Linked DNA regions of Homo sapiens. The protein of the gene in region 2 interacts with the protein of the main gene of each other region in a pairwise test. Each region holds a gene or a part of one and is shown on either strand. Other genes may lie near its edges.

The links. Proteins that work in one complex are often made in the same cells at the same time.
Region 1: the proteins of PEX10 (region 2) and PEX19 interact in a two-hybrid assay, tested with the Homo sapiens proteins (4 studies listed by BioGRID and IntAct, with this or other methods).

What each region holds. Positions count from the first base shown.
Region 1 is NC_000001.11:160,283,342-160,287,087, reverse strand, and holds the start of PEX19 (peroxisomal biogenesis factor 19), read left to right. Parts: upstream 1-1,954; 5' UTR 1,955-1,963; coding exon 1,964-2,033; intron 2,034-2,232; exon of another isoform or gene 2,233-2,723; intron 2,724-3,448; coding exon 3,449-3,558; intron 3,559-3,746. UniProt on the Homo sapiens protein: Necessary for early peroxisomal biogenesis. Acts both as a cytosolic chaperone and as an import receptor for peroxisomal membrane proteins (PMPs).
Region 2 is NC_000001.11:2,410,926-2,414,671, reverse strand, and holds the start of PEX10 (peroxisome biogenesis factor 10), read left to right. Parts: upstream 1-2,107; 5' UTR 2,108-2,169; coding exon 2,170-2,281; intron 2,282-3,746.

The DNA.
Region 1 (3,746 bases), about 160 Mb from region 2:
CAGCCTGGGCAACAGTGAAACTCTGTCTCAAAAAATAAAACCAATAGAGATGCCTGTTGATAGACAAGTTTTCTTTTTTTGACGTGCTTGTTACAACTATAGCCATATTGGAGATACACGTGTAAGCAGTTTGAATGAGAAAGTCTGGAATAAATTATGTTGCAGGTGTTGGAAAACAGGTTTATCAGGAAAGGATTTGATTACAGAAGTTTAGAATTGTAAAGGACTTCAAAAGTGATTAGTGGCAGAATTGGGGCTGGAATTTAGGCTTTCTAACTCACAGTTCATAATATTTTGATCCCAAAACACACTACTTGTGGTTGGAAGAAAACAGGTTTTGCAGATATGATTTTACAAGTCTGTGCCCTATCTGTGAAGGACATAGTAAGTGCTTGATCTGGTGCTTGATGCAGTACTCAAATGTGTGTTTAGGAAGCTAAGAATGAAAGTGATGAGGTGACTTAACACAGGATTTTTTTTCATTTAAAATTCTTACCTTGTATCATACTGTGTGTATATCTCATCATACCTCCGGCTCACCCCCACTTAGCTACCTTACAGCAGGGGGTGGTCCTGATTTATCTCTCTGTCCTCACTGTGCCCAGAACAAGACCTTAATAATAGGTGCTCTCTAAGTGCGAAAACAGATTTGTATGTGAAACAGTTGCTACATTCTGACATCTGAATAGAACAATTCCAAAGGAGGAAAGGGACGTCTAGAGTTACCTCTATCTGAGCATTCCCCGTGTTCACTCAGTTGGAGGTTGGGTTCTGTGTGGAGAAAAGGAGATTGTTCAGGGAAAGTAAGTCTATTACTACTGCATTCGAATTGCCCTGCTCAGTCCAAGGTACCAGAGGCTCTCTTAATAACATGGAGTTCTAAGTTCCTGGCCGGCCCTGTGTCCTTTAATCAAACAGTTCTAATAGATAATAGGAAATGAGAGATGCCACTAGATTGGGCAGACAGATGTGCCTGATTAGGGACTGCGAGAGCAAAGAGTGGCCAATGAATGCCTACTAAGTTTTAAACCCTAGCCTGGGAGTTGGGCTTTACAGCAGTGAAGACAACAGACGAAAATCTTTGCGTTCATGGTGTTTAAATTCTGCAGGGTGGGGAGCGGAGAATAAAAAAGTACGGTAGATAGTATGTCAGATACTGTTCAGTGTTAGGAAGAAAAGGAACGGGAATGGCCAAGGAAAGCGTTTCAGAAAAGATAATATTTGAGGGAAACAATGAAGTGAAGCCGGGCGCAGTGGCTCACGCCTGTAATCCCAGCACTTCGGGAGGCCGAGGTGGGCGGATCAGCTGAGGTCCGGAGTTCGAGACCAGCCTGGCCAACCAGCCTGGCCAACATGTTAAAACCCCGTCTCTACAAAAATTAGTCGGACGTGGTGTCGCGCGCCTGTCATCCCAGCTACACGGGAGGCTGAGGCAGGAAGAATCGCTTGAACCCGGGAGGCCAAGGCTGCAGTGAGCCGAGATGGCGCCACTGCATTCCAGCGTAGGCGACAGAGCAAGATTCCTTCTCAAAAAAAAATAAAAAAAAAAAAATGAAGTGAGAGAAAGTAGTATGTTATGTGCCATAATTGTCATATCAATTATATATGTTTAGATTCTGGTTATTTGTAGGCAGTTTGTCTCAATCTGGCCTACTCACAGCTCAGGAAAAAATAATGAAAGAGCTTCGCCAGGTAATTTGGGAAGTTGAAAGAAAGGAGTCCGGGCCTCTAAAACCAGACAGAAAATAACCCTATCTTATCCCTAATTCTGTTTCACAGGAGAAAAGGGAAAAATACCCAAAACACAAACACTCAAAGCTTCCTGGCCCTTTAAAAATGGCGGTTCCGCACTGGTCAACAATACCATTGGTTACCCGAGGCAGAAGAGGGCGGGAGCGAAGGGGTGGAGGGCGTGTCGGCACCGAGGAGGTCCCGCCTCCTACGGCAAGTCGGAGGTAGCAAGATGGCCGCCGCTGAGGAAGGCTGTAGTGTCGGGGCCGAAGCGGACAGGGAATTGGAGGAGCTTCTGGAAAGTAAGAGCCCATAGTGGGAAAGGCCCGAAGAGGGCACGTGTGAGGACCCATTCTGGGGGTTAAGTGAACCTGAGATATTAGGGACGGGCAGGAGAGGCTCTCCAAAGGTTAAATGGGGGCGGAGAGTCTGACCCCCGAGCCCCCCAAAAATCTCTGGGTCATCCTGCCCCACCCCGGCGACTGGAGCTGGGGAGCTCACCTGGGGTCCCTCAGTGGTCCGGATGGTGGATGTTTCCGCAGGACGGCGTTTCATGATACCTCTTCAAACTCCTCTTTAGGTTACTGAGTTCTTAAAGTTCGACTTCAGCAGCAGTAGCAGCAGCAGCAGCATTTGGTTCTTGCTGGGTAGCGAACTACGCACTCACTGATTGCTTACATTAACTCCTAGCAAGCTCGTGGCCGGTCCTTGTGTGCCTCGTCCTGTCTTCCTTAACACGAAAGACACTTTTCTCCTCCTAGTCCTTTTCTCTTTCTCTCGTTAGGCCCCTTAACAGTTCTTTCATCTTGTCAGTAGCTCAAGCGGACTCCTTTCCCTTATTTTGAGAAACTGAGGATGTGGCGATTTCAGGGGAAAGCAGTTCACCCTCCTGAAAGACGGGGGATGTTTTCTTAGCATTACTCTCCACTCCCCTGTTGACTTCCTGCCCAGAGTAGGGCCAGTGCTCTCTCCCTAGGCCTGGCGAACAGAATGGTGGTGAGGACACAGGCTTTTCAGGGCAGAGGTGAATTTGTAATCGCTTGCTCAATCACGGAGATGTGGGCAGGCAGAAAAATGAACAGAAACCCTGAGGAGTGCCAAGTGACTGTGTAAATTAGTGTACGGTTATCTGCAGAGATCAGGCCAAAGGGAGCTCTAGAAGGTTGTTGGGGAGCACTAAACTGGAGAATAAGAGAAGATAGTTTAATGCCGTACCATGGAGTCTGGTATGTAGTCCCTCAGTCTGTGCTGGTACCAGTACCAACAGGAAGCTGGGTGGGATGTCCTGTGCTTTCTCACCAAGTTATTCCTTTTAGAGCTCCAGAGTGAGTTCAGAGGGATGAGGACATCTGTGTTCTCTACTACTGTTGGGTATTTGTATGGGATTTCTAGGGAATCGTTAGGGTGTGGCAAGGGAGACACTATAGATGGAGATGTCTCTGCAGAACTTTTTAATCCTCTCCTCCCAGCTCTGAGATGGACATTTGTTCCACCTTAAGGGATTTCTTTGCCTTTGCTCACAATAAATTAGGTAATCCAGAAGGAAGTAGGAGGCTCATTGAGGGTGGTCTGGGGAGGTGGGGGACTCAAGGAGGAAAATTGAGGAAAGTTGGCAATTTGAAAAATCATATTCCTAATGCTTTGCCCAGAAACCACCCAGCCTTGCTTGCATTCTCATCTGTCGCCAACACACACACCATGTCTCTTGTCTCTGAAGGTGCTCTTGATGATTTCGATAAAGCCAAACCCTCCCCAGCACCCCCTTCTACCACCACGGCCCCTGATGCTTCGGGGCCCCAGAAGAGATCGCCAGGAGACACTGCCAAAGTATAAATTCCACCCCCTTAAGGGATGGGGAGGGGATGGGCATGCAGCCCTGAGCAGAGGTTGGGCAGGCCCCTATGGGCCAGAGGGGAATGTGGGAGGGTACCTTGGCCTCACATTGGTGAGTGCTCTTGCCAGCCTCAGTCCTTGTGAAATAAGGACTTGAGGTTGAGTGGGGGAATCTCAGAGTT
Region 2 (3,746 bases):
CCAGTGGTTCTGATCTAGATTCGATTCCCTTTGGGGCAAAACTCACCGCCTAATCCCCTATAACTCTACCGGGGAGCCCGGTGGAGAGCAGACGGGCTGACGCTGCCACCTGCCGGCCATCCCAGGATAGGACCGCCGTATTCAAGTCGCCCTCAGGAAGGACCCTCGGGGCACCAGAGGCCTTCGAAGCCCCAATGAGTGAGGCAACTGAGGGTCGCGGGTGCCATTACAAGGCCCAGCCAAGGCCTAGAGCCAAGGCTTGAACCGTGGGGGACCCCCAAGCCCCACCTGCCCAGGAACAGCAGACACTGGGACACTTTGTTTCAGGTCCTGCCCAGGCCCCTCCCACTGTGAGGCTGGGATTTGTCGCCCAGGGTGCAGATGAGAAGAGTGGGGAAAGCAGTCCTGAGCCAGGACAGCGGTGGGGGATGCCTCCTAGAGCAGGCCCTCCCGTCAGGGGCCCATCATAGAACCCAGTGTGAATCCAAAGGAGCCGAAGCCTCCTCCTCAGAATCAGACGTGGAGCCATGAACCCAGGGGCCAGAGCGGCATCTCAAACTGTTATCTAAGCATTGACCAGAACACATGATCACCTCAGCGGCTCCACGTGGGCGATGCCGGGTTGCCTGGTCCACGGATGAGGGGTTCAGCCCAAGGTGCTCAACCCAATCAGAGGGCAGCCTCTGTGTCCAGGAGACACGGGTGCACCCGCGGGGTCAGAACTCCAAAGGGGCGCGGGGGCGCTGGGAGGTTTGGTAGCCAGAGGGCCTGCGGGGCGGGGCCACCCAGGCCATGCCCCTTCCCTGTAAGAGGGGCCATTCCTGCAGTGTGGGGCTCTGGCTTTGTGACTGGGCTGTGCCAGTCTGGGGATGATCCCACAGCTGAGCTCCTGTAGATGGAACCAGAGGTGAGGCAAGGAACTGGAGGCCCTCCCCACTGAGGTCAGCGGGGCGCAGACGCCCCCTTGTCGTGCCCTGCCTTCCTCCTGCAATCCTGCAGGACTCTCCAGGGCCAAGTGCTGCCCTTGGGGCCAAAAAACAGGGCCTTCTCCTTCACCTGCCCTGCAGCCATTCAGGTATGTACCAGGCATCTCCTGCCCTCCCTGGCCAGGCGGCCCCAGAGGCACAGGCCGCAGACACCGCAGGCGACCTGCGTGGGCCTCCAGTTCCCGCCCCAGCCCTTCCCACCCCCAGCTCAGGGCAGGTCCAGCTGTGGCCAGCGGCTGGGGAAGGTTCTGTCCCCTCCAGGTGTGCGGCCTTGGCAAGTGCTTCAGGCCTCCCTCCGCTCGTCCCCTGGGAGCAGAGGGATCGGAGCGCCTGCGATGTGGTTCCCCAGAGCACCTGCGGGGCTCAGGCCAGGCAGGGTGGAGGGTGGAGGGTGGAAGGCCACCTTCCGCCCGTCCTGGAACCACGCGGCGGCTTCCCGGCTGCCCCCCACCCGCCAGGCCCTGCCTCCCGTGGGCACCAGGGGGGCGTCCACACCAAGCCGGCCGTGTGCTTTTCGCGCAGGATTACTGGGGAAGGCGGCTGCTCGGGGCCTGGAAGGTCCCGGGTCTCGCCTCGTGCCCCTCTGGCCCCCAAACCGACCGGCTCCCCGGAACTGGCCAACCCGCGCTGAGAGCCCGCGCAGCTCAAAGGGCGCGAGGGCGGGACCGCCGCGGCCGGCGCTGGGAGCTCGGCTTCCCGAAGACCCAAGCGAAAGCCTCCGTCTCCCCAGCCGTAAATGGGCCTGCAGCGTCTCCACTCCGCAGCGCTGTCCCCAGTGGGAGGGCGGCCCGTGGACGTGCAGGGAGCAGAGCAGGGGCCCCTGGCAGCGTAGGACCCCGAGGTCGCAGCAACCACGCGGCCGCGAGCCCATCCCGCTGCCTCGCCAGCGCCCCTCGCGCGTGCCCCGCCCCCACCTCGGCTCGCGGGCCCCGCCCCGCTCCGCTCCGCCCTGCGCCTCCGACTACCTTCCCGCTGCCCCGCCCCGCGCTGCGCTGGTTCGGACTCCAGCCCCGCTTCCGCCCGGGCCCTGGCCCCGCCTCCAGCCCCAGTCCGGCCCCGCCCCAGCACCTTGACGCAGAGGTCTGCGCCGCACGCAGAGCCACGTCGTGCCGTCATCAGTTCTCGCCCGTCTGGGCGTGGGCGTGGCCGGCGTGGCTGCTCGGGACCACCCGAACCCGCGGCCATGGCCCCGGCCGCCGCCAGCCCCCCGGAGGTGATCCGCGCGGCGCAGAAGGACGAGTACTACCGCGGTGGGCTGCGGAGCGCGGCGGGCGGCGCCCTGCACAGCCTGGCGGGTGAGGGCCGGGCGCGGCCGGACGTCCTCGCGAGCGGCCCAGGGGGTGTTGCCCCTCATGGAGGCGGGGTGTCTGCCGTGTGTGGTCACGGTCGCCTGGGCCCGTCCCACAACCTGGGACCCGGCAGTCTCCTTCGCCTGCCCTGCGGCCATTCAGGGATGTGCGGGGCACCTCCTGCCCTCCCTGGCCAGGTGGCCCCAGAGGCACAGGCCGCAGACACCGCGGGGGACCTGCGTGGGCCTCCAGTTCCCGCCCAAGCCCTTCCCGTCCCCAGCTCAGGGCAGGTCCAGCTGACGCCAGCGGCTGGGGAAGACTCTGTCCCCTCCAGGTGTGAGGCCTTGGCAAGTGCTTCAAGCCTCCCTCCGATCCTCCCCTGTGAGCAGAGGGGTCAGAGCGCCCGCGGCGCGAACGCCTCATACCTCGGTCCGGTTCACACTGACCCCGGCCTTTCCTAGGCCTGAGCAGCAGCCCAGGCCCCTCGCCCTGCTGACCCCAGTGTAGGCTCAGCCAGGCCCTGCCTGCCTCACCAGGCCGGGAGCTGAGTACAGAAGCCAGTGTACTCAATGAAGCAGCACCTGTCATCCCAGCAGTTTGGGAGGCAGAGGCGGGAGGATCGCTTGAGCCCAGGAGTTTGAAACCAGCCTGGGCAACATGGCAAGACCCCGTCTCTACAAAAAATCTGAAAATTAGCCGGACGTGGTGGCGGCGTCTGTAATCCCAGCTCTTCAGGAGGCTGAGGCAAGAGAATCGCCTGAGCCCGAGGGATGAGGCTGCAGTGAGCCATGATTGTGCCGCTGCACTCCAGCCTGGGCGACGGGGCCAGACCCCATCACCGATTAAAAAACGAAAAAAAAAAGATGCCGGGTGTGGTGGCTCACGCCTGTAATCCCAGCACTTTGGGAGGCCGAGGCGGGTGGATCACTTGAGGTCAGGAGTTCGAGACCAGTCTACACAACATGGTGAAACCCCGTCTCTACTAAAAATACAAAAATCAGCAGGGCGTGGTGGCGCGTGCGTGTAATCCCAGCTACTTGGGAGGCTGAGACAGAATCACTTGAACCCGGGAGGCGGAGGTTGCAGTAAGCCAAGATCGTGCCACTGCACTCCAGTCTGGGCAACAGAGTGAGACTCCATCTCAAAAAAAAAAAAAAAAAAAAAAAGGCAAAGCCATCAAGTCTTTGGGGGGTGGGGCAGGCAGTCGTTAAAGGCATGAACTCCCAGCAGAACGTTTCAGGGAGCAGTGGCACTAGAGCCCAGTGGTGGGGGTGTCGTGGCCAAAGGAACAGTGCCATGGGACAGGAAGAGCATGGGTAAATATCAGAGGACAGCCAGGCTCCGTGCCGGGAGGCCCATGGGTGTCAGGTGGGCAGCCATTGGTGGATTCTGAACAGGAGAGTGACATGATGAGAATTTTTTGTGTGTGTACTTACTTGTTTTACAGTACACTTGGCACTTACCCCTGTGC